Regions from separate parts of the Homo sapiens genome. Here region 2 is linked to region 1. Evidence: fine-mapped expression QTL. A gene starts in region 1. The other region holds a variant in brackets. All regions are shown on one strand. Distances are between the middles of the regions. Region 1 holds the start of FOXP2 (forkhead box P2). Region 2 overlaps FOXP2 (forkhead box P2).

What was found. PIP is the estimated chance that this variant, and not a neighbour inherited with it, causes the effect.
Region 2: its variant is the best candidate, but not a certain one, in a credible set for the expression of FOXP2 in subcutaneous fat (GTEx, PIP 0.53).

The regions. Positions count from the first base shown.
Region 1 is chr7:114,412,815-114,417,218 of GRCh38, forward strand. FOXP2 (forkhead box P2) reads left to right here and starts at 2,001. Exons shown (of 17, transcript NM_014491.4): 1 at 2,001-2,546. RefSeq lists an enhancer at 3,978-4,404.
Region 2 is chr7:114,532,432-114,536,835 of GRCh38, forward strand. It overlaps FOXP2 (forkhead box P2), which reads left to right. Exons shown (of 17, transcript NM_014491.4): 3 at 2,186-2,275. Among named protein-coding and RNA genes, the nearest start is that of MIR3666, 120 kb to the right of the region's middle. The variant T/TA (reference allele first, on the strand shown) is at 1,875.

The DNA.
Region 1 (4,404 bases):
ATTGCTTGCAGACAGCAAACCCAGCTTTTTGCAAAGAGACACTAGTGGTATTGTTTGTCCTTGTTGACCTCAGAAGTTCAAAAGCCTGGAGGAGGAAAGGAGATGCAAATATTTTACTTAAAAAAATGAATTTACATATTTATAACAATATTTTTGAATGTCAGAGGTATCAATTTTTTTAACTTTTGTTGGTAAAAATGAGTGTAAGCTTTTAAATTTTATGTTAATTGCTACTACACTGCTTTCTAGGTTGATAAGGCACTATTGCTGAAGAGCATTATGTTATCATTTTAGTGAATGTAAACAGATTTGTGTGAAAATGTTATTTGACTGATGTGATAATGGAAACTATCCTTTATTTCCTCTGGAGTACATAAAGTCATTTGTGTCATTGTATACATTATTCACAGTTTCTTTGAAATGTGGAAGCCCTGTAAACTGTGAAGAGTTGGGAGAAAAAATTTTTAAATGAACAAAGCAGACTTAAAAAATATATTCCTGATACTTGAATATTCGCAGTTGTTTAATTCCCTTAAAATATAAGTTACTATTGCTCATATAATTTCATTTGCTTTGTTCACAATCTGATAAAAAAATGTTAAAAATAAATGTTTACAGGTACTTGCCTATTGCATGAGTTTCCTGTGTTTAAATTTTGGTTTAAAAAAAAACCAATATAAACATACTTTTAATGAGTGAATTATTTAACTATAAAATGAAAAAAATTGCTAACAGAATATTAAACGGTTTTGTATCACAGAGCTAAAGAATAAGTGCTTTCAGTTCCTTTCAGGGGAGGTGGAGAAATAGTGCAGCCTCAGGGGTTGAAGGTGAAATGTGAAATTTGCTGTAATTACTTACCCAAAATGTCTGTATTAAAGGCTATTAGAAGCAGTTATTTTAAGTACTTCTTTATACATCTTTCCCTCTTCTGTTTAGTATTTAAATGTGCAACAAAAGTAGTGGCAGATGTTACTCATCTGAAGAAACTAAAACAAGATAAGTCAGTGGCAGGAGTGGTGGCCGGTTAAAGATCTCTTCGAAGTGCTTTGTTCAGTAACTGTTGTTTTGTCTCACATTAAGTTGTAGGTGGGGTGCTGTTAAAGCTTGTCCACTCACGATGGTGTTCAGCTGAGACCTGTGAGTTCAAGTTGTCTTGCCCAGAGTTAAAGGCCATAAAACTAAGACAGTGTCGTTCCTGTCTTGGGTGTAACTCCTAAAAAACTAGTCAGTTCTTGCAATAGGAGGAAAATTATTGCAAATAAACCTTTGATTTACCAGCTTCAGTAAGTTGTTCATTCTGTCTCTGTAGCTGTAGTTTTTACCTTAACAGTTTGAGGCTACCATTTCTCTTCCTTTCATGCTTATGGGGTCCACACAAACCCTGCTAGGCTACCTACAGTATAAAATCTTAAAACTCCATGTGGTGTTGTGAGCTGGTAGCAGATGGACTTTCTTTTGCATCTGCTGTGTACAGACTTGGCTTTGTACTCTTTTCCTGGGGGAGAGAAAGTCTTTCTTCTCTGCTAGTTGATTCCTGTTTTTGTGAAACAGCTAAGAAAACATCTGTGGCAGGCAGAAAAATTGACAAAGGATTGACAAACACCATTAGCTGAAAATTTTCCATTTCATTGCAACTATGCATTGTTTACTTTACTGTAAATATCTTAATACATCATCCTCTGAATATGCTGGCAGAGAAGCTGGAGAACTGTGATTTCAATTAAGGTTAGTAATTGATGGTATCTAGTGTTCAAAGGCTGAAGCTTGATTAACATCTGCTTGGACAAATTGTCATTGTGAAGTGGTTTTGATGTGCATTGAAGATTATTTCTTTCTGGCTTATCTGATGTTGTGGCTGTGAAATGCTTGTCTTGGGTTTGCTTATTTTTGTAAACTACTTCCTTTGGCTGTAAATTGCAGAGCACTGGAGCTTTACCAAAAGTGCAGTGTATAATGGTAAGCTTGTCCTAATAAGGGAAGCAAGAAGTGTATTTATCACAGACATGAAAGCTAACCGAGGACTTGAGAGACTCAAACTGGTGCTTTTGTCTCTCTCTCTCTGTCTTTCTCTCTCTCACACACACACTCACACACTCACACACATGCACACACACACATACACACACACAAAAATGAAGCACTTACTTTAGAAAGATTATGGTAAGCATGCTGGCTCAGTCTTGAACCTTTGTCACCCCTCACGTTGCACACCAAAGACATACCCTAGTGATTAAATGCTGATTTTGTGTACGATTGTCCACGGACGCCAAAACAATCACAGAGCTGCTTGATTTGTTTTAATTACCAGCACAAAATGCCATCAGTCTGGGACGTGATCGGGCAGAGGTGTACTCACAGTAGTGTAAATACTGCTGTAAATAGTTGTCTGATGGTGGCTTTGACAGTGAGCTAGCTTCTGAGTTTTCCCTTCTTTTTATACTGTTTTCTGTGCTGGCTTTTTTGAATCTTCCTAATTTTTCATCTCTTTAACAAACTCCTATGAAGTTGAAACCGGGAAGTTTGCTCTAACATTTCCAGAGAAGGTACGTTACTTTTTGCTAAGAGAATATCTGTAAGAGTTTAGAGAGGGGTGGGATTTTACGATTGCTTTACTGGTAGATTTGGCAATTGCTTTACTTTTTTTTTTTTCTGAGACTGTAGCTCATTGAAATGAACTAGAGCATTGTATCTGTTTGCGAGGGAAAAGCCGGGAGACCAGACACAGGAACTGTTTTTGATCTGTCAGTAGCGTAATGTAGATTTAAGCTATCACTAGTAAAGACAGCAAATAAAGAAGGCCTCTTTTGTATTAAAAAAAAATCTGCAAGATCTTGAGAAGAATAAAGACAGGGTTCCTGCTTTCATGGTTTGATAATAACCATGTCATCTTGCTTTTAGTAAATGCCCCAGTATGTGTCAGGGCGCAAGTTTTTGAAAAGGGAGTTTGACCACACGTTTGGGTGCCTCTCTGTGCCGTGCTGTGTAGAGCAGATGTTTATTTTGTGCTAAAGGGGAAACTCTTTTTGCTAAGCTTGTACAAACATGAAAGGAGTCAGGGCTCAGATGATCTTTGTAGTTTTATATGCATGTTCATGATTTTATTAAAAATTGGTTGGTGGGTCTTTTTCAAATCACTGATTGTGAAGAAATATATATATTTCCAGGAATACACATTGTGAATTGATGAGTAATTTTTAGAAACTGCATTATATTTCTTCAAATAGGTGTGATAGTTTAATACTCGTGTCAGTTAAAAAGGTAGCTTGGCTGGGCTATAAATTACCATTTCTGCACTTTTCATTCTGTCTGCTTCAAAAAAGCGTCTCAGAACCTGGGATCCTATTGGGCCCATCATAGGGCTACAGTAATTGCCTGATGACAACTGAAAATGATAGAATAATTGTCAAGAGAGACATTTTTAATGGGCAAGGTGATTTAAGTATGCATGAACAAGCTATGAGGGAAGATGAGCTTGTTTATGATGCAAGCCAGTATAAACACAGTCGGAGGATGACACAGATAGCTGCACTTTTCCCAGTGACATGAGCAAGTTCTTACTGCAACACCAACAGCTTTTTCCTCTGACCAGTTTGACATTCTTCACCTTCAGGTAATAACGCCTAAATTTCATCCATGTATTTTCACTTTACTGTAGCCTAAGTGACAGGTTTTTGTTTACTAGCCTCCGCGACCAAAAAAAAAAAAAAAAAAAGCACTCTATTTAATGTGTGCTTAGAATAGATCTTGAATCACTTTCACCGTCAATAGTGTGTGTAATACAAAACTTTCATTCTTATTTTCGATTGTTCCTTATCTTTGAACTGTTCTGACTTTAAATCTGATTATCTATAGTTGATTCATAATGCCCTTTTAAAGGCATATTTATTTGTCTTTACAGTCAGCCCTTCTGCTGTACAAGTTTGGAAACAAAGTATACTTGAGAATATGTGGAGAGGTTTAATGATTAGCCTGTTGGTTTTCACGGAAAGCAGAGTCCTATACCTAACAGAGATTACGGTATTGAAGGGTTACAGGTATCTGTTTAGAAATATGGTGCTCTATTAGAAAACAACTTGTTTGACTTTTTTTTTTAAACCCATGTAAAATTTCACAGAATATGCTCACGTTTTATTTTAAAGATCACTAAAATTATATGCATTGAAATACTAATAATCTTTGTAAAAGGTGGATAGATAATTTGTTTACTTTATTATTCATGAAGGCAAGTAAGGCATGGTATTCTGCTATTGTGGGCATATTATTAACATTTCATAGGGATTTGTGCTGGAATGTGGAATGCTGCTTCTTCATAATTTAATACTCCTATGCATAATGAGGTTTGTGATTAGTTGATAGAGAGAATTGGCCCAACTCCATTCTGAAAGCAGATAATTTACATTG
Region 2 (4,404 bases), 120 kb after region 1:
CCTACTAATGATTCCTTTGACAGAACAGAAACAGTATGGCACACTGGAATACACTCAGGCCTGGAAGCCAGCAGACCTTGAACAAAGCATTCATAAATTGCTTTGTGATCTTGAACAAAGCAACTGACTATTCTACGTTTCATTTTTCTTATGTGCTAGAATAAGGAGGTCAGATTAGATGATTTTCAAGATAGCTTTTAGTCCTTGTCATTCATGATTCTAAGATCCTAAACAGTGTTCAATAAATTTTTTAAAGAATAATAAATAGATAACTACATAATTTAATATAAATTAAGGCAACAGGTATACAAAATAAACTCATCAACTCGAAAAGAAAAAAAAACTACATGAAAACAATTAGGCATTAACTGGAAAAATAATCAAATGCATTTTTTATTTTGAGAATTTCAGAGACACAGCCTGGGACACCTATTGTAATTTCCATTTGGAAAATTATCATTTGTAGTCACTTTATAAGTTACAATTAAAAGAGGAAAGATATATTATTTAGAATATTGAATAAAAAGTTTCAAATAGTGAGCCTTGTGATAATAAAGTAATTACAGATTTTTTTGTTTGTATTTTCAAACTGAGCTCTATAATAAATAGCCTGAGTTCACTGGAATGTGCCATCCTTAGAAATATTTACGTTAATTTGTAATTACTTGAAAAGTTAAAAAACAACAACAAAGATGATTATCGTGAGTGAGTGTGTCTCCAAATGTAAAAAGTGTGCTTTACAAACTATGCCAGATCCTGCTATCGGAAGACAAATCAATGTTGTTAGGAGATGGTGCTAGTGCATTCAGTTTGTTTACTTTGGTTTCTATGTCTGCCTGCCTTCTCAGAAAACTTGCTTGGAGCCAGACTGTAGCAGCCCTCTCTGTCTTTTCATAATTGATCAGGGGATGACTGCCTTCCCTGAGGGTTAAGACGTGGCAACTTTTTCTGTTTGCTCAGCATCTCAATGCAGTAGTTCAAACATTGTTCACACCAGCTGGCAGTGTAATGCCATATGCACATCTTGTCAAAGCAACTGTTGTCATGGATACTAGAAACTCTCTTAAAAACCAGATCATTGATTACAATCAAAATTGTACTTTTTATCAGCTGAAATTCTTAATTATTATATAGGAATATTAATCCAATAATGTTTTCTCATTGTGAAAAATTTATCTTGTATTCAAAAACAGTAAATAACATATTAGGCCAATGATTTAGTTTAGTTTTATGTGTTGAAAAATTTCATCATTAGTGTTCATTGAACTCAGTTGTTGAGAGAGAAAATGAATTTTTTAAGAGACTCTTAAAAGTTTTTGTTAATTAGTGTATACTCCTACCTTTAGAAGAATTTACTATGCATTTTGGTCTATGGCACTAGCTTTTATATGTTAAGTTTATATAGTACATTTACTGAACTGTTCCTCCTCCAGTAAATGAAATGCTTACATTAATTTCTTATGTTAAGTTTTATTTTCCTAAGTGGGAAAGAAAACATAAAAATAAATGAAAACATCTTCTATTTTGATTGGTATTCTGTCACACATAGAAACAAACCTGATTGGTTGAGTGGTAATTTCTTTGTTCTCTGATTTTGCTAAGAATGCAAATGAAAACCACTCAATTTTATTTGGCATTAAAACTGCACTTTATTTTGTCAAAGGAGAGGTTTCCCCTTGAATTGTAAGTACAAAAAAAGTGTTTTTAATCTTTAGTGAAAATCCTTATTAATTCACTTTCAAGATAATCTGATGTTGATTTGTCAAATTTAATTACAGCTTCCGGTAACACTTGAAGTCTACTGCTTTTGCCTCAAAATTGTAATATGAAAATGCAAATTGAATGATAATTTAAAAGGGAGTGGGCATTTTAGT[T/TA]AACACTCAAAGACAAGTTCCTTGTGGAAATGAGGTTATTGATGCAGTTTATGATTTTTATCCTCTTTAAGCACTTTAAACAAATTAACTTTATTTCCTGTAGGATTGCATGTTTCTCTGTGATTTGGAGTAAAAAGTTATATATGTGTGTTTGGCAATTTTTTTCATATTAGAAGATAAACAACAATGATTCTCTCTAGAAAGGAATATGGGAGTTCTTGTACATTGAAGCCTTTTACTATTAACCAAGAGATAATTGATAACTTAACTTTCAACAAAATATTTAGATAAGGTTTCATTTTTACTTCTAGGCTCTCCAGGCAGCAAGACAACTTCTTTTACAGCAGCAAACAAGTGGATTGAAATCTCCTAAGAGCAGTGATAAACAGAGACCACTGCAGGTTAGTAAAGCACTCCTGTCCTTGGGGTCTTATTTTAAAAGATGTTCATAATGATAACAGATGTGCAGACCCACTTGTATATATACAGGAAATTATTACATTTGCATATGTAGGTAATTTTAATTCATAAAGAGAATTCATTTTATCTTCTTAAAGGAGAAAAAAATAATATTCTATTGGCATACATTTTAAAAGTTTACAAGGTAACTCCTTGCAAAAAATACATAGGAACCATATTTGGTGTACATAGGCATAAAGAATTTTGCATAAAACCCCCTTGTGGGATTTTATTCATACATAGGTTGAAATGTAAAATTTTTTTCTTAAAAGCAAAGTTATAGTAAAATGGTGTGGAAGGAAACAAAGAAGTCTTAGACAACCCTTCCGCAGTTGTATCCAAGTGACAAATGCAGAAAACTTCGAGGATTGCCAAAAAAACTGTTTGAGTTTGCCAAGGAGTTATTGCTGGTGCTACAGTTATAAAAACACATTCTGGAGTTTGTTGTCCTTACTCACTATGTTTGTCCTGTGAAACTGATAGTATGTATGTCTTTTAAAGTAACTTTTGTTACATAATATAATCCTTGTTTTATGCAGTCTTCTTAACCAAAATATGTGGGACATTTTCTTGGTGGGGGGGGAAACATTTTTAAGGTATATTTTTTGACTGTTTGGAAGGTAAATTCTGGAATTGCATAAAACATCTCTCAAAGTGTTCACCAGCTCTGTTGAAAGATAAGTAATGCTTTTTCCTGAATCATGTGTTATATACATGTCTAATAAGGCAAATTTAGTTTTTTAACATCTCTTGTGGCTTTAACAAAAAAAACAAAACAAAACAATTTTTTATGGCCCAGCTGTCTGTTTTTATTTTCAGGTGTACTTACAGATGTTAGTAACTAAGTCTTACATGATGGCCTTCTGGAGCTTAGTTTGTATAAGAGAGAATTATAAGCTACTGATCTGTACAATCCAAAAATTAGTTATTACCTAAAAACTGGATAAAATGTATGGTCCCTAAACAAATTTGAGATAAGAACCGATTTTCCTGGGAACAAAGTCATCTGTGGAGGGTGGATGAGAAGAAGAGGGACTTGGGGATAAGGGATGTTTCAACAGAGTACAGATGTCTGCCATGACTGGAAATGAAAGTTTTATTTAATCACCCTGAGTTTAAGATTCTTTTCAGTTTTTTTTTCTCTTTTAAAAGCAACTTCACATTCCTTTGTTTTAACTAATGAATAATTCTGTGTCACTTTCCTCACCATCATATTCTTCCCCAATTTATAATGGGAGCGTAGGTGTAGTATTTCCATGGAGTTATCTGATTGCATGAGAGTCTCTTCATGCATTTACATGACAGAGAAAAATTTACATAGAAGTCACAGAAGATAGCAAATGAAATGTTTATCCTCACTATGGCTTCAGAGTGGGAATTTTGCTTTCTTGTTGGAATAGAAAAGGAGAATTAGATGCTGGCAACATAAGCAAAAGATAGGAATGAAGTTACTGTTTTGAGTGTCTAAAAAACACTATATATTTTCCTAATTCTATTTTATCATATTTCTTGACAAAATAGAGGAATTCGCAGTTGCTTCTTCCTCTCCAAAGCTAAGTCCAGTAGAAGTTTCTATATTGCTGGTTACCAGGGTATCTCTGGAAAGAATGGCTGGGCTTTAGTTTTTCTTTTCTTTTTTTTTTTTTTTTTTTTTGTTGTTGTTGTTGCATTGAAAGGCAAGATTTGATACTTGGACTAAAATATACGTACTTTTCCTTACAAAATACCCACAATAGAATGTGGGAATATTAATGGCTCTAAAATAAGAAATTGTTGTTTGTTTATCAATGCAGAAGTAAAATTTTGAGCAGAAGTGTCCAGTCTTGTTGTTTTAGCATAAAAGAATGATTAAAACTATTATAAATACCTTTTAACAATTGCAGTTGCTGACCATGACTACAAAGACTTTCATTGTGTCACTTGTTTTTCATTTTGTGATGCATATTAATCTGAATTTATCTCCATTGTTTAGACTGTAAAACTAGCATTTCAGTATTAGTTTGTAATTTTAATGAGATCTCATGCCAAAATGTCATAGGAACGAGAAGTTGAGTTTTATGAATGAGAATTT